Regions from separate parts of the Homo sapiens genome. Here regions 2, 3, 4, 5, 6 and 7 are each reported to be linked to region 1. Evidence: microRNA targets listed by miRTarBase, many of them from high-throughput screens and not tested one by one. Region 1 holds a microRNA gene; each other region holds the end of a gene's coding sequence.
Evidence for each region. Region 1 holds the annotated microRNA hsa-miR-497-5p (CAGCAGCACACUGUGGUUUGU, at 2,279-2,299, shown strand). A microRNA usually pairs through its seed, bases 2 to 8, with sites in the 3' UTR of a target mRNA and lowers its output. Matches are read on the target gene's strand: a 7mer-m8 pairs with bases 2 to 8, a 7mer-A1 pairs with bases 2 to 7 and ends in A, and an 8mer does both.

Region 1 (3,322 bases):
TGTGGGTGAGATGGCGGGGAGGGGTTCCCCACGGCAGCCGGGGCTACAGGGTAAGCCAGGCCAGCTCTTCGCGCCTGGGTCCCTTCTCTCTTCGGCCCTCCTCCCCTCTCTCCCTCCCACCGCCCACCCCCCCAACCCAAGAAAAAAAACTGCCTGTGCAACAGCAATGGCAGATTCCAATCCTCCAGGCTTTCCTAAACCACCACGGTGACCAGCCAGGGGGGAGGGGAAGGGAGGAACGGGCTTTCCTGCTTCCTTAAGACAGGGGCAATGAGCTTGACCTCCTGGCCCCTAGCCCTTTGAGGAGTGATTCCCCCCGGTCTGGAAGCCAGGTGTCCTGGACCCTAGCCCCCGAGCGGTGGGGGGGGCCTGGAGAGACGGGGAGGAGGAAGGAGGGAGTGACTTCCAAAATTGGCATCGGGACAGAGCAGGGCTGGCGGGAGGCAGGCAAAAGACGGAATTTTCCTGAAAAAACGGGGGTATCTGAGGACCCCAAATTTGGGGAGCTAGTCCAGGACCGTCCTCCCAACATCCTAGATTTTTTTGGGATTTTTTGGGGACCCCGGGACCCCTCTAGATGGGGTGAGGAATGTAGTGTTGGGTGAATCTGACTGGGGCATTGCAGCTGCCTCTCCCGCCGAGTTGGAGACGGATGGGCTGGGACGGGTTTTGGGGGGGTGTCCCCAATTCTGACTGGGAGTGGAGGAACCCCTCCTGAGATCTCTTGTGGGGGTGCCCCCTCCCCAGGGCACTCCCCAGTCCCTGAGCCAGCCGAGAGGAAGGAGGCCAGCGATGCGACTGGGGCGGCTCCTTTCTCCTGCACCCCAAATGTGAGGGATGCACCCTAAATTTTGCTCTTTTCAAAATAGGGGACCAGGATCTCAGGGGAGAGTAGCTGAGGTAAGTGGGGAGGGAAGTGTCCTCTGTTTTCAGGAGAGACGTGGCGGTTGGGGGGGAGGTTTGGAGGTGCGTGCTGGGGTGGGGTTGGCTTTGTCAGTCTTGGAATTGGGGGGATGATTGGAGAGGCTTTCTCTTATACCCCTAAACTGCAGCCCCCCAGACGGAAACCAAAGGCTGAGACCAGAGAGCCCCCCAACATCCCCAGCCGTTAGGATAGTGTTTAATTTCTCTTTCACCCCCCACAAAGGCTCTGCCGAGGTAGGAGCTGGGGGCAACTGTTAGTTTGGGGGCTATGGAGGGTGGTGGAGGAGCAGGAGGCCTTGGCAAGATTTGATGGAGGGCAGATAGGGGTGTCCGGGAGGGGTCTGGCATCTTCGGGGGCCTAAAAAGACTGCTTACATACACCACCTTGGATCTTTCAGATTGCTAAGAGTTTTGGGGGGTGTGTCGGAAGAGGGGGTGGTAAAAGATGCGATGGGATATAGGAAGATAACTTCTGGATTTTAGGGGGTCATATTTTGATTTGCAAAAGGAGTTTTGGCCCTTGGATTTTGCTTTCTGAGGGGTGTTTTTAAAAAATCAAGTCCTGGACAGGAGAAAAGGGCTGAGGGAAGGCCTGGAGTTGGGGGTGGGGAGAGGCATGTTTGTCTCAGCTTAAACGTGGCTCTCTGGGGTGGGCCCGCCTGCCCTGGCCTGGTGGATGGGCTGATGGAGGTTGCTGTGGGGGCCGGCTCGGGTCCTCAGGGGCCCTGGGGAGTGGGAACAGCACTGGGGGTTGAATACCTGGCCCCCCAGGTCCAGATGGCCCTCTTCCTGGGCTCTGCTGCTCCCCTTCCCCCTGGTCTCCATTTCCTGCCTTTGGCCTCCATCTTGTGGCAGGCCCAGGGCCCAGGGCGACTTCCGGCCCCCCTCTCCCAACCATGTTCCGGCCCCACCACCTCTGGACTGCCAACTCCCAACCCTGCTGGCCTTGGCCCTCTGTCTCTCCTTGCTTTTCTCTTGGGTTCTGACCCAGGGAGAGGAAGGACGGACACAGGAAGCCTTGGGTCCCTGCCCTTGCTGAGACAGGAGGCAGTGTGTTGGCCCCTCCAGTCATTCCCTATTTCTTCTGCCTCTGACCCCACCCTAGGGATCCCCTGAGCTGAGTTCCTACAGAGGGAAGATGGTCCAATCTTACTACACTGTGAGCTCATCCCCATGGTCCGTCGCCTTCCAGTTGCCTGCTCAGCCCGTCCCTGGTTCCTCCCAAACGTTTTTGGGGGCCATGTTTGCCTTTTAAGGCTTCTCTATCCCCCCGCTCCTGGAGGTGGTGCTGGGGTCTTCCCAGCACTGCTATGTGCTCTCTTCCTTTCAACCCACCCCGGTCCTGCTCCCGCCCCAGCAGCACACTGTGGTTTGTACGGCACTGTGGCCACGTCCAAACCACACTGTGGTGTTAGAGCGAGGGTGGGGGAGGCACCGCCGAGGCTTGGCCCTGGGAGGCCATCCTGGAGAAGTGACACAAAAAACATCTGGGGCCTTGTGACAAACTTCTTGCCAGGTGGGCAAGGAGAGGGTGGGGTATGTAAGCACCCCTCTAAAATCTCCAGGGCAGTTTCAAGAATACTGATGGCCAGAGACCCTGGGAGTAAGTTCTGCCTCAAGAGAACAAAGTGGAGTCTTTGTTGCCCACACCCAGCTTCCCTGGCTCTAGCAGCACAGAAATATTGGCACAGGGAAGCGAGTCTGCCAATATTGGCTGTGCTGCTCCAGGCAGGGTGGTGAAAACTACCGAGGAGGGGCTGAGCCCCCATGGGCCGAGGAGAGAAGAGGGAACAGGCCTCTCCTGCTAATAATGTTAAGCAGACAGCACGAAGCTGAGAGGGAAATCTTTATTGTTTTCTGTATAAAAATGTCCATCAGATGAAGGTCAAAGGGGTTGGGGGCAGATGCTTATGCGGGAATAGCGAGGTGGCAGCCCCAGCAGCCTTTCAGCCCTCTCTCGTGCAGGCCTTGCTCGGAGTCCCAGGAGATCCACAGGTCCGGCATGAACAGTGAGAGGTCAGAGGTGGAAGGCTCAGCAGGAGAGGAGAGGAGGATCAGCAGAGGTCATGAGAAGGCCAGAATCCAGGGTCAGGCTGTCTGGAACAGGAAGTAAAATGGGCCGAGATGGAGCGAGCCCCCAGTGTGCTTCCAAGGCCACTCCCACCTCCCTGAAACACCCTGCTACGTACTGATCCAATGCCCTGCGCTGTGTATGAGAGCACCTTCTCTTCTGAAACCCCTATACAAGGGAGGGGCCCCTGCGGAGACCGTGCCCTGCCATCCAGGTGAGCCCTTTCTCCCCAACCCCGTCAGCTGTGTGGGAGGAGGAGGACTCCTACCCTGGTCGAAGTTGAGTTTCTTAGCTGGAGGAGTTTCTCCTAGCCCTTCAATATCCACC
Region 2 (3,322 bases), not on the chromosome of region 1:
GAAGGAGGAGGGTAAGAGTGAAAGAAAAGGGAAGAGAAGCCAGTGAACTCAGGGAGAAGTTTGTAACCAAAGGCCATTTGTTAGATCGGGAAGGGGTAGGGACAAGGACAAGGGACAGGTCAGAATTGCTGCTGTCCTGCCTGGGGCTGGAGAGAGGGGTGCCCAGGAGCAAGATGGCAGATGGGTCTGGCCCTTGCCCTGCCAGAGCAGGGTCATTCGGCAGTTTTTCTTGTTGCTCCCCAAGAAAACCCCTGCAGAGTCGAGGGAGCACAACCGGGACTGCATCCTCCTCGACTTCTTTGACGACCACGACATCTGGCACTTCCTCTCCTCCATCGCCATGTTCGGGTCCTTCCTGGTAAGCGGGCCTCCCGGCCGAGCCGGGTGGGTACGTGAAGGTAGCAGCTGCCTCCTTCTCTGTGGCTGATCTGGCGTCCACACCCCAGGTGTTGCTGACACTGGATGACGACCTGGATACTGTGCAGCGGGACAAGATCTATGTCTTCTAGCAGGAGCTGGGCCCTTCGCTTCACCTCAAGGGGCCCTGAGCTCCTTTGTGTCATAGACCGGTCACTCTGTCGTGCTGTGGGGATGAGTCCCAGCACCGCTGCCCAGCACTGGATGGCAGCAGGACAGCCAGGTCTAGCTTAGGCTTGGCCTGGGACAGCCATGGGGTGGCATGGAACCTTGCAGCTGCCCTCTGCCGAGGAGCAGGCCTGCTCCCCTGGAACCCCCAGATGTTGGCCAAATTGCTGCTTTCTTCTCAGTGTTGGGGCCTTCCATGGGCCCCTGTCCTTTGGCTCTCCATTTGTCCCTTTGCAAGAGGAAGGATGGAAGGGACACCCTCCCCATTTCATGCCTTGCATTTTGCCCGTCCTCCTCCCCACAATGCCCCAGCCTGGGACCTAAGGCCTCTTTTTCCTCCCATACTCCCACTCCAGGGCCTAGTCTGGGGCCTGAATCTCTGTCCTGTATCAGGGCCCCAGTTCTCTTTGGGCTGTCCCTGGCTGCCATCACTGCCCATTCCAGTCAGCCAGGATGGATGGGGGTATGAGATTTTGGGGGTTGGCCAGCTGGTGCCAGACTTTTGGTGCTAAGGCCTGCAAGGGGCCTGGGGCAGTGCGTATTCTCTTCCCTCTGACCTGTGCTCAGGGCTGGCTCTTTAGCAATGCGCTCAGCCCAATTTGAGAACCGCCTTCTGATTCAAGAGGCTGAATTCAGAGGTCACCTCTTCATCCCATCAGCTCCCAGACTGATGCCAGCACCAGGACTGGAGGGAGAAGCGCCTCACCCCTTCCCTTCCTTCTTTCCAGGCCCTTAGTCTTGCCAAACCCCAGCTGGTGGCCTTTCAGTGCCATTGACACTGCCCAAGAATGTCCAGGGGCAAAGGAGGGATGATACAGAGTTCAGCCCGTTCTGCCTCCACAGCTGTGGGCACCCCAGTGCCTACCTTAGAAAGGGGCTTCAGGAAGGGATGTGCTGTTTCCCTCTACGTGCCCAGTCCTAGCCTCGCTCTAGGACCCAGGGCTGGCTTCTAAGTTTCCGTCCAGTCTTCAGGCAAGTTCTGTGTTAGTCATGCACACACATACCTATGAAACCTTGGAGTTTACAAAGAATTGCCCCAGCTCTGGGCACCCTGGCCACCCTGGTCCTTGGATCCCCTTCGTCCCACCTGGTCCACCCCAGATGCTGAGGATGGGGGAGCTCAGGCGGGGCCTCTGCTTTGGGGATGGGAATGTGTTTTTCTCCCAAACTTGTTTTTATAGCTCTGCTTGAAGGGCTGGGAGATGAGGTGGGTCTGGATCTTTTCTCAGAGCGTCTCCATGCTATGGTTGCATTTCCGTTTTCTATGAATGAATTTGCATTCAATAAACAACCAGACTCAGTTCTTGGGGCCCTTGTTTGCACTCCCTCTGGGTGGAGCTGTTGAGGATGAGGGGAGAGGCGGAGGTCTTCCATTTCCCCATTCTTCAAGCCATGGCCCTACTGGGAACTGCAATTCCTTGATTCTCCCGTTTTTCCTGTCCCTCCAGCAACAGCATTAATTCAGTAAACATTTACCGGGGCACTGTGCTGGACAGAGGCCAGTTCCTGGAAAAGCCTTTCCCACGCCATCCCACTGCAGACATCCCTCCTTACCTCCCCAGGAACAGCAGTCTCTGCCCACCTGGCCCCGCCCACCAGACTGAGGCTCACTTCACCTCTGACCTGAGCGGCCCCCAGCTCACCAAGCCACAGGCCCAAGCAGTGCTCCCTGATGCGGCGTTTATAATCCGCTCAGCGTGCAGGCCGAGGCAGGAGGGTGATGAAAGCTGGGCAGGCTCCAAGAGGAGGGAGTTTTGATATGTCCCTGAAAGATTCATTTAGACTTCAGTCGGCTAAGGAGGACATGATTTGGGGGCCAAGGAATCTGTTGAATTCAGAACACAACCAGAGGTCTGCAGGGTCAGGGATGGAGGAGTGGGCTTTCCCCTCGCCAGGGCCCACTCCTCTTCCTGCTTTTCCTGCAGGCGCCACTGGGAGGTGCTATGGCTGTGCCTCCCCTGGGCTCTGGAGCATGTCCAGTTGCAGTGGGCAGAACTGCGGAGGCGGGCCCCTCCTCTGCCAGGCCTGGCAGCCCCCTCCTAGGGCCTTGTTTGGCTAGGGGTGGTGCCGGGTGTGGCAGTGTGTGTGTAGTGGAGAGTGTTAGGTCTTCCCTACCAGATGCCCTTGCAGGGGAGTGCCACAGCAGTCAGTCCAGGGATCCCACTGTTAGTCTCACCTTTTTTAACCTCTTATCTCTCCCCAAGATCCCTGAAGCCAGGTACGAGCAAGATGAGAGTGGGTTATCTCTGGAGTGACAGAGGCTGGTCTGTTTTCCAGGCTGGTAGGGACTGTTCCTAAAGGGAGGAAGGGATGATACCAGCCTCCTGAGCCTCCTTCTCCTGCGTTAGTGTCTCAGGCCCTGCCAGGCCTTATAGACCCTCTTATTGACACTGCCCACTGGATGGGGACCGGAGTTGGACTCAGCTTCTGCCGAACCCTCAAATCCCAGCCCCAACTAAAGCATATAACTCAAGACCTACCTGCACTGAAAGCTCTTCTCAACCTGAGCAGGGTGGTCCAATTGAAAGGGTGGGTCTGACCACCTCTCCTGCACCCATGCGGGTTGGCAGAGGTGTGCAGGATCTGCCACTTACCATTCACCATGTGGCCTTGAGGAAGACGCACTCGGGGCCTCAGTTTCCTCATCTATAAAATGGGGATGTAATTACACCCTCACACTGTAGCTGTGAGTATTCAATGAGAGCACTGCAAAGGGCCTGGTGTGGAGTAGGTCCTC
Region 3 (3,322 bases), not on the chromosome of region 1:
GGTAAAGTGGTAGTTCAGATTATCTTTTGGAAGTAGTTCTGTTTGAACTTTAAAGTACTTTATAGCATAATTTTGCAAAGGTTTTTTTCTTAATCGCTTAGAATCAAAATATAATAAACATTCTTATCTGTTGCTTATGTATGCCAAATATAATTTAAAATGCTCATTTTTTTCTGTAAAAAATATATTAAAGTCAAGTATTTTTACTGTGGCTCTCATTATATAAATAATTAGTATAAGTATCTCAATTTTTCTGGTTTTGTTCCTTTCTAGCTGCATAGATGAATGGTTTGAAGTAAATAGATCTTGCCCTGAGCACCCTTCAGATTAAGCGTCAGCTTCCTGTTTTATAGGTAATTTTTTTTGTAATTACTTTTTAAAGCGTTAGCCCAAATTATACATTCTAAACTATAATTTTTATTTATTCATTTACTCATTGAGGTGCATGAGTGTGTATGTGTATGTTTCAGACACTTAGGCTACTGCATAGAAAACTTACATTAAAAATATTGTATAATTCTAATTGTTGGCTGGGTATGCTGGCTCGCGCCTGTAATCCCAGCACTTTGGGAGGCCTCAGGCAGGTGGATCACTTGAGGCCAAAAGTTCAAGACCAGCCTGGCCAACATGGTGAAACTCTGTCTCTACTAAAAATACAAAAATTAGCCAGGCTTGGTGGTGCACACCTGTAATCCGAGCTACTCGGGAGGCTGAGGTACAAGAATCACTTGAGGCTGGGCATGGTGGCTCACACCTGTAATCCCAGCACTTTGGGAAGCCGAGGCGGGCGGGTCACGAGGTCAGGAGATTGAGACCATCCCTGGCTAACACGGTGAAACCCCGTCTCTACTGAAAATACAAAAAAAAATTAGCCAGGCCTGGTGGCGGGTGCCTGTAGTCCCAGCTGCTTGGGAGGCTGAGGCAGGAGAATGGTGTGAACCCAGGAGGTGGAGTTGGCGGTGAGCTGAGATCGTGCCACTGCACTCTAGCCTGGGCGACAGAGCGAGTCTCCTTCTCAAAAAAAACAAAAAACAAAAGAGAATCACTTGAACCCAGGAAGTGGAGGTTGCAGTGAGCCGAGATCATGCCACTGCACTCCAGCCTGGGTGACAGAGCAAGACTGTCTCAAAAACAACCAAACCAAAAAATAATAATTCTAATCATTTAGTATTATCATGTGCCAGGTGTTGTTGTAAGCATTTTACATCTATTAGTAACTTGTCTAATTGTTACAATAACCGTTTTGAGCTCAGTACCATTACTGTTCCTATTACGCAGATGAAGAAATTAAGTATAGAGAGGTTAAGAAACTTGACTTTTCAAGTTCAGATAACTAGTTTGTTGGTGGGGATGAAATTTGAACCCAGGTATTCTGGTTCCAAAGACTGTTCTTAGCAATTTTGCTCTTTTTAGGTAGGAACATTTTCTTCAAACAGTCGCATCATAAATTTATTCATTCAATTTAATCATTCACTTTTATATCTTTAGCATGTAATACAGTGCCTGTCTATATAGTAGGCAAAAAATAAAGTTGCATTTTACGACTGAAAAAAAAACTAGTTTTGTTCTACTGATTTAAGTTTTTCATGGTTCTGCATTATCTGAAAATGTTTAGTGAATTGAATGCTGACCTCAATTGGGTATTTTCATAGGGCTTTTTTTTTTCACATTTCACAAGTGCATTAAATTGACATCATTTAGCTTTGAAAAAATAAAGGTTAACTTAATTGCTATCTTCAAATATATGAAAAGCTTTTATGAAAAGACTTGGAGAGATGATATAAAGCATTGGATTGTTATATCAAGGCAGAGCATTTTAGCTAATCCTAGAATTGTTTCAGGAGTGAGAGTCTCTTTGTTCAGGGACTCAAGACAGTAACAGCCGGCTTTTCTAGGAGGCTGAGACTGATGGCAAGGAACTAGACCAGATGACGTCCAGAGGTCTAGTCCTGTGTGGTACCATTTCCTTTTATTTCAATAACTTCTCTTAAATTTGAGAATAAAAGTGTTGAGGTAATAAACACCCTCAAGGAATTCTGTTGCTGTATTGGTGGAAGATGATTTAAGAGTAGCAGATTAGAATATTGACAGAGAAGATTTGAGATAATAGCAGCAATAGCACCTGAAATGAGAACTGCAGTTGAGTGTCATAAGACTACGCATGTGCATGTGAAATGTGGAAGCCTTGGTAGACTGCAGAGTACTAAAAGACTGCCAATTTTAACCTTTCCTGTGAACTTACTTAGATCATGCCTTGACACATTTAAAATATGAATTGAGGCTGAACACTAATTGCTTGAGATAAGGAGTTTGAGGCTGCAGTGAGCTATGAACACACCAGTGCACTCCTGCCTGGGTGACTTAGCAAGTCCCTGTCTAAATAAATAAATAAATAAAATGTGAATGGAAGTAAGAATGCTAGGTAAGAGAAGTATAGTGGTGGAGTGGTATTTTGAATATATGTGCACATATGTTTTTATTTCACCATAGAAAAGGTTTGGAATGCCTTCATTGTCACCTTATGTTTGAGACAAAACGAAACTGTGGCTAAAATTATAGAAGCATTTTAAGGGAAGTACTGAAACTGATGCTAACAAAATGAAATTTTTGTCTTAGTATTTTACATGCCAAAGTAATACATCTAAATCCTTCATCTATAGATAAAATTTGTCTTTTTAGTCTTTCTTAGTGCATTTTGGGCTGCTATAACAAAATACCTTAGATGAGTAATTTATACATGACAGAAATTTAGTGCTCACAGTTCTGGAAGCTGGGAAGTCTAAGATCAAGGTTCCAGCCAGTAGATCTGGTGTCTGATGAGGGCTCATTGCTCATTTATGGCACCTTCTGTGTGTCCTCACGTGGTGGGATAACAGACTCCCTCAAGCTTCTATAAGGATACTAACTGCATTCATGTGGTCAGAGCCCTCATCACCTAATCATGTCCCAAAGGCCCCACCTCTTAATACTATAGCACTGCAGATTAGGTTTTAACATAGCAATTTTGGGAGTACACAAACATTTAGACCATAGAGCTGATAAGCTTTTTTTTTTTTTTTTTTTTTTTTTGGTGAGGTGGAATTATATTGTATAAATTTTTTTTCTTTCATCAGCTAAATTTTTCCTTTAGTGTCACAGTGAGCTTATGGGATATGTGGAGCATACATCTCATCTCATAGCTGAAATGCATATGTCTGTTGGTCTTCAACAACATTTCCATTTTCTTATGTTACATATGAGTGTTATATTTGCTTATTTGTTTGTTTTCGAATATAGAACCTGAATTTGAAACTAGCCTACTACATGGGCAGGGTGAACTCTG
Region 4 (3,322 bases), not on the chromosome of region 1:
GGTGCCGCACTCTGAAGACCCAAATGCTGGGCACCAGGACCACTAAGGGGAAGGCCCGGGCCTGGGCACGCGATGCACATGCCAGCACGTGTGGGTTTCCGAGGTATTTTTGTTTGGCCCTGGAGGGTTCTTTAATGGGCGTGGGGAGAGGTCTGGCAGTGGTAGGGGTGTTTGTCTCCTCCCCACCCGCTTTGCCCAGCTTCTGGGGACATAAACTTGCCAAGGCATACACCCTGCCTTTCCCCACCAGGACCTAATCGGATCCCTGGTGTGGAACGCACAAAAGTTCTGGAGGCAGACTTGGGTTCAACTCCCAGCTTGGCCTCAAACTGCGTGGCTATGTGCTGTAGCGGCCAACCAATCTAAACACTTCCCGTCCGAAACGTGAGGCGAGCAGATCACATGAGAGGGCTGTGTTTCCTTTTTCCCTTTCCTCCAGGGCCTAGGACTTATTTCCATAGCATCTTCCAGGTCTGAGAAAGCTGGCAGGGCCCTGCCCTCCCTCCCAGGTCCTGGCCTCAAAGCACAGCCCCCGGGGCCTGTCCTGACCCTGCACTGCCCCTCTCTGCGCTCCCATCTGGGCTGCCCTGAAAACCAGCAGCAGGCTGGTGTCTGCTGAGCAGGACATGGTCACTGACAGCAAGGAAGAAAGAAGGGGCAGGTGGGTGCCCTTGGATGCTCATCCTCCCCCTGCCTTTCCCACACCCCGCCTGCCTTGCTCTTCCCAAGTCTGTGGAATCCTCTCCATTCGCTCCAGCTGCCCCCGCCCTGGTATAGGCCCTTCCCATCTTCCCTTCCACTGCCTGTGAGCCCAGCTCCCTGAAGCCTCTGCCCCTCCCACGCCCAGTGTGGGCACTTTACTGCCTCTAACGAGCTCATTCTGTTTCCCACTCAAAGACCCTCGCATGGCCAGGTGCAGTGGCTCAAGCCTATAATCCCAGCACTTTGGGAAGCCAAGGTGGGTGGATCACTTGAGGCCAGGAGTTCAAGACCAGCCTGGGTAACATGGTGAAACCCCGTCTCTACAAAAAAATACAAAAATGAGCCAGGCATGGTGGCGGATGCCACCCAGGCGGCTGAGGCAGGAGAATTGCTTGAACCTGGGAGGCAGAGATTGCAGTGAGCTGAGATCGTGCCACTGCACTCCAGTCTGGGCAACAGAGTGAGACTCTGCCTTAAATTAAAAACAAAAACAAACAAAAAACAAACAAAAAACCCTCGTGCAGCATTACAAGGAGGTAGGGTCACTTGGCTTTGTTGGTCAGAGGCACATGGGGACTTACTTAATGTGTGCTCTGCGCAAAGGGAAGGATTTAGATGGAGAGGGCGTTCCCCGTGCAATAAACGGCCTAAGAACAGGTGCAAGGGCTGTAAGCTTCCCTGGGGCACCACTGCGCCTTGTGGTGAGGAATACCCCTTAACCCCCTCAGCCTGCCATGGTCTTGTCTCCTGGGAGCGTGACCCAACCTGTTTGATTCTCACTGGACTTTTCTTGTCCCTGTAGGATTGGTGGTTGGGGTAGGGCACAGGGCTCCAGCCCGAGAGGCCCTAGGTTTGGGGCTCCGCCTCACCATTCATCCTCAGCACCTGAGCGTCTCCCCTCCTGGAGCCTCCCCGTGGCTCTAAAGTGAGGCTGGCAGCAGGGCTGGACCGCTGGGATCTCCTGGCACTGACACCAAATGCCGGCCGTGTATAGTAGGCACCCAGGGACACTAGTAACTAATACTCTCACCTGGCTGGAGTCACAGCAGCCAAGATGGGGCCCTGGGGTCTGACCCCAAGCCAATAGGGGTCTCCAGATGGCCACACGTGCCCAGCTACCCAGTCCGCAGAAACAGGACAGGCCCTAGCAGCCCTAAGCTACCCCAGCACACAGATGGACATGGGACCTTTCCCCATACCTGCCCCAGTGTGGAGCTCTGCACAGCCACCTGAGCTGCCTCATTCCCACCGCTGCCATTAGCAACTCAAATCTGACAAGCTTAGGAGCTAGGGGCCCAATTCCCACTCTACTCAAGGGCTTCCCAGCTCCACGTGCATGTCTGTGCTACCCAGAGGCCCACAGACCAGAACAACCTCTTCACCCCACCTGGAGACGCCAGGGAGCAGGCTGGGGCTGCCCTGGTGGGGGCTGCCCTGGTGGGGGCCCCGAGGAGCCAGGCAGACGCACCAGCAATTTTCCAAGGCCCCAGGGAGGCGGTCCTCGTGACAACATTGACACAGGCTGACACCTTTACTTTCCACGCCAATAAGGAGAGCAAGTTCCCAGAGAAGGAAAACTCATCCATAGCCTCAAACTGGACTCCCTGGGGCCAGAGGTGGCAGTGTCACCCTGGGGAATTCCCTGAACATCCGCAGGCGTCCCTGTCTCCATTTGGAAGCACAGAGACGGGCGGGAGGGGAAAACACGCACACATGGTGTCTGGGACTCCTGCAATGCACAGCTGTTCCGGGGGGACTTCCTCCTGATTGGGGGGTGCCAGCACCCACTGCCAGCTCTGCTTACAAGAAAGACTCCTGCAGGGCCCTCACCCTCCTACCTTCCCCCCTTCCCAGCCAGAGAGGACTCAGCAGTGCCACGCGGGGGTTTATTCCAGTCACAGCTTCCAGAGGAACGCAACAATAAATTACATCATTAAATAAACTCCGGCTGGACCCCTCTGCCCCGCCCCTCCACATCCTCCACTAGGACCCTGTGGGGACTCAGCCTGGTCCAGCCCCCGCATTAGGGGAGACCCCCATCTCCCCTAATGAGCCTCACGGGGTCCCGCCCTGATCCTCAGTCCCCGGTGCTCACTTGCCTGACCTTGACAGCTGGGCAGCTGCTAGTCAGCTGTCTCTAGGGGATGCAGGGGGCAGGGCGTGGAGGGCAAGGAGGGGGCAGCAGCCACCCCGCGCCAGGCCTGTGTGGCTAGAGGTGTGTGGGGTTCTCCAAAGAGGGGTCCGTCTTAGTCATGTGCAAGACCACGGTGGGAGCCTTATAGTGGCAGTGCGTGCCACGTCCGTAGCTCCCGGGGGCGCGGCAGGCCTTGGCCCGGGCCCGGCCAGCTGCTATCTTGCGGTAGCACAGGCTCTGCCAGGTCTGGAAAGTCTTGGAGCTCCACACCCAGACGCCGCTGGTGATCCCCACCACCAGTGACATGAAAATTTTGAGCATGAAGACCGCCACGGTGGGCACCGAGCCCCCTGGCAGCGAGCAGTCCCTCCGGCCTCCGGGCCCCGCGGCCGCTGCGCATGGCTGCTCTGTGGCCCGAAGGCGCCAGAAGTCCATGTTGAGGCGTTCGTAGACATAGCAAACGATGACGCAGGTGGCGGGCACCGT
Region 5 (3,322 bases), not on the chromosome of region 1:
TGACGAAAGACAGAATTTTATTTCCTTAGTTTATTAAAGATGACAATGAACTGCCAGGCTGCACAAGCACCACAGCAGGTGGAAACGCAGTTCAGAGCACGGGCGGCACACACGGAACATCTCTACTAAGACTCGCACTCCTTTTATGTTAGTTCAACGAAAGCTCTAAATCCTTGGCAGAGAACGTCAAAAACAGCCTCATTTAAGTGGAAAATATTTGTCTTCCACTCTTCTGCTATGTCTTGAATCTTGTCTCCACCTGGTAAGCAAACTATGTTTTTTTTCTTTCCCTTTACTTACAGAAAGAACACTATCACCTGCCTTCATTTAGAAGGAATTCTCTTCAGTGCATTCAAAGCTTCTCCCCGCAACAGCAGGGGATTTTCAGATAGTGGTAACTTGCAAAGTGCTTCCAAAACATCCCATCCTCTACCCACTTCCCCCCTCTTGAATAAATAACTGGGTATTTGGAAGGTGAGGACGGCATCGTGTCAGAGTCACTAAAACAGACGCACGATCTAAAGGGATGGGGTGCGGTTGAGGGAGCTAGGGAAAAATAAGTGACAAGTGAGGAGCCTATGAGACTGTTGAGTTCGGCTTCAGAAGCTGTCAGCATTGTCATCCTTTGATCCTATGCTGATGTGAAACAGGCAGGACAAGACGGCACATCTGTCCTCCAGCGCAGTGACCTGGAGAAAGAGCTGGATGTGTCACCTTTTTGTTTTTTGAGACGGAGTCTCACTCTGTCACCCAGGCTGGAGTGCGGTGGCGCAATCTCGGCTCACTGCAACCTCTGCCTCCCAGGTTCAAGCGATTCTCCTGCCTCAGCCTCCCAAGTAGCTGGGATTACAGGCGTGTGCCACCACGCCCAGCTAATTTTTGTATTTTTGGAAGAGACAGGGTTTCACCACATTGGCCAGGCTGGTCTCAAACTCCTGACCTCATGATCCGCCCGCACTGGCCTCCCAAAGTGCTGGGATTACAGGTGTGAGCCACTGTGCCTGGCCTGGATGTGTAATTTAAACCAAAACTGGAAGTAGAGCTCATTTTTATAAACTCCTGGGTCTGAATCTGGGACCTAACCCCTAGTTAAACTTGAGTTCTGTGGGGTCATTCTTAAAGCTCCCTGAAGGACCTGGGCACTTCTAGTCACAGCCCTTCAGAACTTCTGGGACTTGGCTTTTTGAGTCTCACTATGAACAGAAGGGAGAACAGCCTCAGGGTCTTCTAGCCCTACATGGCTTTCAGATCCCAACTTTGAGGCAGAGGAATCAAGGGCAGGGGCCAGTTCCCACATGTTCCCTCTCACGCTGGTGGAGCCTCAGCCCTGGCCATCACCTTAATGCCTCTCCCACTTCCCTGGGAGACTCCTTCTTACCGCCAGCTCAAGCTCTCATCAGCTTCCACCAACCACAGGCAACTTTCCGCTCAGCTTCCAGGGCAGCACCCACGCCCATTTCTTTCCTACCAGCAAGCAACTATGAGAAGACATGCCCATGGGCAGAATTCAATCCCAGAACAAAAATGATGCAGGCTTTAGTTCACAGAGCTGCCAGCTCTTGGAGAAGCCACTCTGACCAGTGTTTTCACAGAGGTTAGAAGCTGCATCAACTTAAGGAACATCACAAACACACACATGGCCCCACCCAAGGACTTCACTGTCAACACACACATTAACGGGGGGGAAGGGGGAGGCAGCACACCAAAATCAGCATTATCAAAAGGACTTCACCATCAACACACATTAACGGGGGGAGGGGGGCAGCACACTAAAATCAGCATTATCAAATGAACAGATAAACATTACCAGGCTACACAGAGTTAAGTGCATAATTGGCATAAAGGCTCTTGTTATCCCAAGAACACAGGGACATTCACACTCACATCCACAAACCGTCAAGTTCTGTAACAGCACTAATAGCAGGAAGCTTTTCTCCAACTTTGACCAAAGAAGCTAAGGCAAGAGAGACTCGGCCACCAGGGAAGGACCCAGCTCTGCTGCAGGAAGGGGAGAGAACGGAGTCGGGTTGTACTTTTACTCAGAAGCACAACGACCATCTAACAGAGGACAGAGTCATCAGGGACACGCTAAGAAGATGGTGGGTGAGGTTCCTGTCCTCACCTTAGGATGGCATCAGGGACCTGCCTGAGCTTCAAAGATCACACCTGCACCAAAAAGCCAGGTTAACTAAGAGACCTTAACACCAAGAGGGGGCCGACCGCTCCTCTGAGTAAGCGCTCCTTCAGCGACAGAGCTGGCGCCTCACGTATGCTTGCGGCGTAAGGCTACAGGTGAGCCTGGCCTGAGCATCAGTTCTGTTCTTTGCTTCAAGATCACCAAGGTAGATGAAGAAAGTCAGCTTGTGGCATCCTCTATGCTTCAAATATTTCAAACAGGAACTCCCGGCAACATAGGGACATTCACAGCTGCCTCTGAGGTCTCTGAGGAGTCTAGGATAGTCAGGATTGTTCTGTGGCCCCCAAAATACCCAAATAAGTGGACGAAATGCCCATGACGTAGTCCTATTCTCTGCTGCTTCTCCTCGGGGCACAGTCTGACCCCAGTCCAGGACAGGGAGAGGGAAAACGCCATCCCCGTTTCAGCAGCAGGAGAGGTGGTTGAGAAAGGCCTGGCTCAGAAGCTCCAGAACTGAAACAAAGGAAAATTGGAAATGATACCTGACATGCAGGTGAAACCTAGAGGAGAAGGCCACAGACGCTGGAAGAACTTGGTCTTGCTGTCTCTTCCACTGACAGAGGCACTAGAAGCTTCACTGAAGGACCCGCATGTCAGTTCTGATGGAAACACCTGGTGTTTACAAATTATCTGTCACCACAGACTCTGGACCCATCAACCTGCCGACGGCTGACTGCACACAGACGTCAGACAAGTCAGTAAAAAAAAAAAAAAAGATGATGATAATTAAAAAAAAAAAAAAAAAAAGAAGCCCCAGGTGGGGCGAGTCCTTCAAAGAGTGGCTCAGTTCTGCAACAGGTGTGACCCGGCCCGGAGGGAGGGCTGCACGTGCTTTCTTCAGGTGGCCTCCAGGACGGCGGCTTCCAGGGCCAGCGCTTCCGCGGGCTCCTCCTCGTAGTCTGACAGGTAAGACTCCAGGCTCTGCCTGGCCAGTGCCTCCCGCCGGGCCTGCAGCCGCTCGCAGCGCGGACAGCTTCCAGACTTGAAGCAGGCTTTATGGTAACACGCTTTACACTCTACTCAGGTTGGGAAGGTGGGGGAGAGAAGAAAACAATTTGTATTATCTCCAGCTAGAGGTCAGTTGCTGCCACAGCCCCTTCTCGCCACCAAGGCGTGGTGTCCCCT
Region 6 (3,322 bases), not on the chromosome of region 1:
AGGCAGATGAGAAGCCCTTTATATGTGCCCAGTGTGGCAAAACCTTCAATAATACCTCCAACCTGAGAACACACCAGCGGATCCACACTGGTGAGAAGCCTTACAAGTGTTCTGAATGTGGCAAGAGCTTCTCGAGAAGCTCCAACCGCATCCGGCACGAGCGGATCCACCTGGAAGAGAAACACTACAAATGCCCCAAGTGCCAGGAGAGCTTTCGGCGGCGCTCAGACCTCACCACGCACCAGCAAGATCACCTAGGCAAGCGGCCATACCGCTGTGACATCTGTGGCAAGAGCTTCAGCCAGAGTGCCACGCTAGCTGTGCATCACCGGACCCACCTGGAGCCAGCACCCTACATCTGCTGTGAGTGTGGGAAGAGCTTCAGCAACAGCTCCAGCTTTGGCGTGCATCACCGCACCCACACAGGTGAGAGACCTTATGAGTGCACTGAGTGTGGGCGGACCTTCAGCGATATCTCCAACTTTGGAGCACACCAGCGGACCCACAGAGGGGAGAAGCCCTACCGGTGCACTGTGTGTGGGAAACACTTCTCCCGGAGCTCGAATCTCATCCGCCACCAGAAAACTCACTTGGGCGAACAGGCTGGGAAAGATTCCAGCTGAAGGAGAGCCCCATTTAGAGTGAGGGAGAGAGAGTGAGAGACCCTAACCTATTGGAGGAAGATCTTCAGCATCTTTTGCTGCTACCTTGACCTCAAGCCCTTCATCCCACTTTGGAGAATGGTTTTGTATAGCCTCTGAAGTCAGGATCTCAGGAAGTCCTGAGGAGGGACTCTGGAATAAAAACCCTTGCCTCTTTCCAGGCCAATTTCTCGTGTTGGAAAGTCAGAAGACCCAGTCTTGGCTTTACTTTCTTGGGGTGAAAGAGAAATAGGGTAGGCTCAGAACATGCTCATGTTATTAAGGCAGCAGTCCCCCTGGCCTTTGAGGAAGTACTTATGAGATGGGTGTCACTGTCTGAAGGTTCTCCAAATTGTCTGTGAACTGCTTAGGTAGGAGTGCACTGCAGTTTCCTGCTAGTTCCCACCTGTTGTGCCCCAACTTTGCTTCTAGATCTCTGGGGTGGGAGGAGTGACCTTCTCAATGGAAGGGGCCTCCTTGGTCTGGAGAAGAGATCTGAGGTCCCACCTTAGAAATGAAAGGGAAACCCTCAGGGAGCCATGACCCAGGGACCTTCACACTCCCCCATGTTTGTTACTTGTTATCCCTCCCCCAACCTGCCTCTGTTTTCCCCAGAGTGATTAGCAGTAAAACCCTTCAATGAAAAGGACCCGTGTACTTATTTGGGGAAGTGGGGAGCTGGGGAGATTGTCCCACTGAACCCACTCTGGAAGGGATTTGAATTCTAAGAAAGACAGATGGGTAGATGCTCTGAAAAGCAAAGGAAAGCAGACTGAGTTTCTGGGGCCTTTGAGGAGAAGGGGGAAAGGAAAGGAACTAACATTAATTGAGCATCCACTACATGCGATTAATTCTGTCAGTCACATTTACATTCATTATCTCATGTAGTTCTCACAGCAACTCTCAAAGGAATAAGAAGAGGACATGAAAGTGAGGGAAGATAAAGTCACTTGCTGTGAAGTCATACAGCAAGTACGTTGTGGAGCAGAGTTCAAACTTGGGCCTCCCTGACTGCCAGCTGTTGCTCTTTTCACTACATTTACCTTTTGGCTTCTGAAGGAGGAGCCACTTAGGAGACTTGCCTGGAGTTAGGAGCCAGTGTGGCCTCTTCATATGGCCTTGGGCCATTTGCTCTATGGCAAGTCAGTGCCAAGCATGAGAACGTTTTCAACTTTATTTTATTTTGAGGTCAACTTTATTTTATTTTGAGACAGGATCTTGCTCTGTCGCCCAGGCTGGAGTGCAGTGGTGTGATCACAGCTCACTGCAGCCTTGATCTCCTGGGCTCAAGTAATCCTCCCACCTCAGTGTATGGAGTAGCTGGGACTGCAGGTGCACACCACCACACCTGGCCTCAATGTTATTGATTGAGCACTTACTCTGTGCCAAGGAAAAACGGCAGTGACGGGGAGTACAGGGTGAAGGGTGGGATAAGGTGAGAGAAATCTTAAAACCCATAATGAGAGTCTTTGCTTTTAGTAGCAATAGTTTAGTCCTCAAGGCTGGAACAGCTTAGCAGGGATTATGTCTGGTTTCCTGTCCTCCTGGTTTAGGCCTGGCTCCACATGGCAGATTTCAGTGTTTTCTACATGGAAGTTTAGTGTTCACCCAGTTTTCCTCTAACAAATACAAAAGAACCCTTCCTCTAACAAATACAAAAGACCCCTATCTACCTCTCTTGTGAATCTGGGGCCCTACTCTTCCAGAGTGAGGGGCCCTCTTCATTTGTAGCCAGTTGGCAGAGTGTGATTCTGGCACCGGGCTTGGAACTGACATCACCCATAACCTTACCTAACATGGGGACCCTGCCGTTCACCAGTAAGAGATGTGCCAGGAACTTTACACTCATTATTGAATTCTCACAGCAACTAAGAGTGACTTGCATTTGCCGTATGTAGAAATAGGCTGATAAAGAAAGGGACTTGCCCAAGGTTACAGAGCAAGTAAATGCGGGGTGTAGGACCTGAACTACTGCCCAAATTCAAGTCCTGTATTTTATCCAACTATAAAAGACTTCCCAAATGATTCATTTATATTTATAGGGTACTTTACTGTTTACCAAGCACTTTTATTTCATACACATTTTCTGATTCCTTGAAAATCTCCACACAATATATTTTAAACATAGTCACCCAAACTTGTGTGTGTGAGTTGGCACACACCCTAATAATAAAAATCACCATCTTTTAAATACCTACTAAGTGCCAATTATTGTACAACTCTTATCTCTAGTCTTCATACTATCCTGTAAGGTAGTAATGTCCCCATGTTCAAGGCAAGAAAATTCTGTGAGATTAAATAACCAGACCTATTGGCAGAGTGGAGACTTAATTCAGGTATGTCTGATCCCAAGGTCAAGCTCTTCATTATACCCACTATCAAGCTAGGTCTACAGATCCCCTCTCAGTCTGGGAAGCTTAGTCTGACTCCTTCCTGACTTGGAGACTTTGTGACAACCACTGTGATTTTTTTTTTTTTTTTTTTTTTTTTTTGAGACAGAGTTTCATTCTTGTTGCCCAGGATAGAATGCAACGGCGGGATCTCGGCTCACTGCAACCTCCACCTCCCAGGTTCAAACGATTCTCCTGCCTCAGCCTCCCGAGTAGCTGGGATTACAGGCATGTGCCACCATGCTCGGCTAATTTTGTATTTTTAGTAGAGACGGGGTTTCTCTATGTTGG
Region 7 (3,000 bases), not on the chromosome of region 1:
CCTTGCTTGCTTAGACTTCTTAAGTAAAGTCTCAATGGCATATAATGCTCCCGTACAGGGGTCTGCTGTAATTGTTTACAACAGGCAGGCCGTAGCTGACGGGTGGGAGAGCTTCCCACGGAGCGGTGCTGGTTGAGCCGCTGTGGGAGCCCAACTCGTGGCAATTGGAGTGGCCCTGAAGTGTTTGTCTCTTCCCCTTTTCTCTCTCTGCACAGGAGCTGGAGAAGTGTGATGCCAATCACTACATCATACTGTTTCGTGATGCTGGCTGCCAGTTCAGGGCGCTTTACTGCTACTATCCTGATACTGAGGAAATCTACAAACTCACTGGCACGGGGCCAAAGAACATCACCAAGAAAATGATCGACAAACTGTATAAATACAGCTCAGACCGAAAACAGTTTAACTTGATCCCAGCCAAAACCATGTCTGTCAGTGTGGACGCACTCACAATCCACAACCACCTGTGGCAGCCCAAGCGGCCTGCAGTGCCAAAGAAGGCCCAGACTCGTAAATGACCCCGGTGCAGCTGGCGTCCAAAGGGTGACCCAGACTCGTAAATGATGCCCTTGTGGCTGGCATCCAGAGGGTGCCACGGGGTCCTTATTTATTGTTTTCATCTATTTGGGTACGAAGTGTGCAAAGTCACAGACCTTTTGCAAAGAGGTTTCTAGACAGCAGAAGAAAACCCCTCTCTCAGCGCTCATCTCACGCAGAGGATGCCAGGCAGGGTGAGGATGGGGGAGTAGATGCCGCTTTTGCAGTGGCTCGCACTGCTGTGGCCACTGCTGACCACTGAGGCTCCCAGCGGAGGGTGTTCACAGCCAGGTCCCGGGCCACGGAGCTCCCTTACTTGAAGTTCTCCTTCAGCATAGATTAGACGTGATCCACTTTGCTTTCTTGCTTCTCACCTCGCCCCCTTGCACATTGCCTGACACCCTCATATTGGCCAGCTGTAATCTCGTGACTATGGGACTGAGGCTCAATCTTGGCTTGGGGTGTTTGAATGTCTATAGCAAAGGAATTCATAATGGGAAATCTTTTTCATTTGAGAAATTGTATGATATTTATTGGTTGTGTCTACTGCCAACATTTATATCCAATTCTAAGATTTCTGAAAAAAAATTCTTATCCCTTGCTGCTCAGAAAAAGTTTACGGAAAACACCAGTTCACTAAAAGCACCGAAATCTGCAAAGCCTGTCTTCCGCTAGAACAACGTCTACAAATGTGAAGATGATGACTTCTGGCACGCGGTCATGAGGGTGGGGAATGGCACTAGGAGCTGATGTTTGCCTCATTTAAAGTAGGCAAGCCGAGCCAACTGCAGCCATCATTCATTAAGTTTTGGGTAGTGCTCTAATGGTTTGTTCACTTTAATAAAGACAGATTTTGGTAAAGTAGAATATTTTTCATTCTGAGCATGTTTGTCCCAAAAGGTGATGCACTTAAGCTGACAGTCCCTTCAGTGGTTTTGTTAGGTCACGGCTTGTCCTGTCTGGATTCTGCATCTGGAAGCGCTGCATGCTCTCAGAGGAGCGTGCCGTTTCCCCTGTAGATGGATACTTTTGTTTTGTTGCCTATTTAAAAACAATTAAGTGGTTATTTGCAGTTATTTCAGAACTCCAAGTAAGTGGATGGCTTTGGGTTCTTTCTGCCTTGGTCCCAATGGTGTTGATGCTTCTGTGGAGCGCGGACATTCCCAGGAGCAGGTGCGTGCCAGCCATGGCTGCCAGACACTGCTGCAACTGACCAGCTGCCGGAAGATTCTGGAGCCACTAACATTAGTTTTGCACATATTTTCTTGGGAGTGTTACTTGAATCTATCTCAAACTGCAGAAAAAATCAAAAGATCAATAATTGGGAGAAAAAGAGACAAATTTAACTGTTACATAATTTTAGATAGACAAAAAACATGAGTGAGTCGTGTACATAAGGAGGGAACATGGTACAGAAGGCTAGAAGGAATTATAGGTCTTATTCCCCTTTCCTCAGTCCTTTGAAGAGAAGTACAGTCTCTTGCGATTTTGTATATATCGTGTTCGACACAGCCGCTCTCTGTCCTGTAAATAGGGAACTAAAGGCTGTATGATTTCTCAAGTGCTGAGTTACACAGTCCTGAGTGAGCTTTCTGTTACCATACTTTCACACGTGGGCTTTATTTCTCACTGTATGTTTGATATGATATTACTGTATTTATTTTAAGAAAGCACTAAGATGTAATAAAGTGATGAACTAATTTGCTTTACATTGAATCGTATGTGTGAGGTTGCTGTGGCTCATTTCGCTGACCAGGCGACACCAACTCCTTGCTTTATAGGAGTTTCACATTGTTCTTTACCATGGCCCTATCGAAGTCAGTGGAATTGGATTCTTTTTAATGAAGAGCTAGAAAATATCTGGCATAGAGCTGGAAAATTGCATTCCCATGGGACGTCTGAATCAATTCTGGATTTTCTCCATGGAATGAGTCAGTGTGTGGAACATCCTGAAACTTGTCCTTAAGCGTGTAGTTTTCACTGTTCGTTGCGAGTAAGCACTAATGTGGCATGGACATTCCTGATGTCCCAAGTCCCCAGGCCAGTGTTCGCCTAATGATTGACAGAAGCGTCCCTGCGTTCTTCATGCTTGGACACAGCAACCCTTTTAATTAGTCTTGAAAAGTTTCAGACACAGGATTAATTTTCGTGGTGGTGCTTTTGGGCCTTTCTGGCTTGGGTGGTGGTAAAGTCATGATTTTGCAGTTGATAACACTGACTTATAACTCTGTTTATCAATGTCTCCTATATTCAAAGCCCCTGCAGTGGTATTTGTGTCTCGTTGCAAATTTCTTTCAGCGGAAAGCTTGCACAACTTTCGTTGTGTCTCAGAATTCTAACCTTGTTATTTAAGACAAGCTGCTCTACCCATTTAGGATATAACTTTGTAAAGAAAGTGTAAACCAAATGATTCAATGTATGATGAAGTTTATGTGTAAATCCTTGGTAATGCTAGAATTCTGG

Region 2: miRTarBase lists SIDT2 as a target of hsa-miR-497-5p. Seed matches in the 3' UTR shown: 7mer-m8 at 751-757.
Region 3: the mRNA of ZNRF2 is a reported target of hsa-miR-497-5p. The part of its 3' UTR that is shown has no 7-base or 8-base seed match.
Region 4: miRTarBase lists FZD9 as a target of hsa-miR-497-5p. The part of its 3' UTR that is shown has no 7-base or 8-base seed match.
Region 5: miRTarBase lists RUBCN as a target of hsa-miR-497-5p. Seed matches in the 3' UTR shown: 7mer-m8 at 2,603-2,609.
Region 6: miRTarBase lists ZNF691 as a target of hsa-miR-497-5p. Seed matches in the 3' UTR shown: 8mer at 699-706.
Region 7: the mRNA of CAMSAP1 is a reported target of hsa-miR-497-5p. Seed matches in the 3' UTR shown: 7mer-m8 at 1,137-1,143.

Annotation. Positions count from the first base shown.
Region 1 is chr17:7,016,956-7,020,277 of GRCh38, reverse strand. It overlaps MIR497 (microRNA 497), which reads left to right and starts at 2,256; the gene lies at 2,256-2,367. It overlaps BACC1 (BPTF associated chromatin complex component 1), which reads right to left. Exons shown (of 6, transcript NM_174893.4): 5 at 3,264-3,322; 6 at 2,758-3,017. The coding sequence ends at 3,013. It overlaps RNASEK-C17orf49 (RNASEK-C17orf49 readthrough), which reads right to left. Exons shown (of 8, transcript NR_037717.1): 7 at 3,264-3,322; 8 at 2,754-3,017. MIR497HG (mir-497-195 cluster host gene) reads left to right here and starts at 624. Exons shown (of 3, transcript NR_038310.1): 1 at 624-900; 2 at 2,890-3,209. It also overlaps MIR195. RefSeq lists enhancers at 1,550-1,719, 3,071-3,322.
Region 2 is chr11:117,195,558-117,198,879 of GRCh38, forward strand. It overlaps SIDT2 (SID1 transmembrane family member 2), which reads left to right. Exons shown (of 26, transcript NM_001040455.2): 25 at 245-358; 26 at 447-1,885. The coding sequence ends at 509. LOC100652768 (a long non-coding RNA gene) reads right to left here. Exons shown (of 8, transcript NR_045215.1): 3 at 3,180-3,231; 4 at 2,762-2,879; 5 at 2,229-2,350; 6 at 1,673-1,847; 7 at 1,451-1,589; 8 at 56-477. Among named protein-coding and RNA genes, the nearest start is that of TAGLN, 2.2 kb to the right of the region's middle. RefSeq lists enhancers at 538-1,037, 2,370-3,033 and a silencer at 2,436-2,730.
Region 3 is chr7:30,362,104-30,365,425 of GRCh38, forward strand. It overlaps ZNRF2 (zinc and ring finger 2), which reads left to right. Exons shown (of 5, transcript NM_147128.4): 4 at 274-353. The coding sequence ends at 331. Among named protein-coding and RNA genes, the nearest start is that of LINC01176, 27 kb to the right of the region's middle.
Region 4 is chr7:73,435,373-73,438,694 of GRCh38, reverse strand. FZD9 (frizzled class receptor 9) reads right to left here. Exons shown (of 1, transcript NM_003508.3): 1 at 2,575-3,322. The coding sequence ends at 2,912. Among named protein-coding and RNA genes, the nearest start is that of FZD9, 3.3 kb to the right of the region's middle. RefSeq lists a silencer at 2,982-3,276.
Region 5 is chr3:197,671,984-197,675,305 of GRCh38, forward strand. It overlaps RUBCN (rubicon autophagy regulator), which reads right to left. Exons shown (of 20, transcript NM_014687.4): 20 at 1-3,213. The coding sequence ends at 3,035. It overlaps MIR922 (microRNA 922), which reads right to left and starts at 2,593; the gene lies at 2,513-2,593.
Region 6 is chr1:42,851,191-42,854,512 of GRCh38, forward strand. It overlaps ZNF691 (zinc finger protein 691), which reads left to right. Exons shown (of 4, transcript NM_001242739.2): 4 at 1-1,287. The coding sequence ends at 623. Among named protein-coding and RNA genes, the nearest start is that of ZNF691, 6.2 kb to the left of the region's middle.
Region 7 is chr9:135,808,827-135,811,826 of GRCh38, reverse strand. CAMSAP1 (calmodulin regulated spectrin associated protein 1) reads left to right here. Exons shown (of 17, transcript NM_015447.4): 17 at 216-3,000. The coding sequence ends at 518. Among named protein-coding and RNA genes, the nearest start is that of CAMSAP1, 97 kb to the left of the region's middle.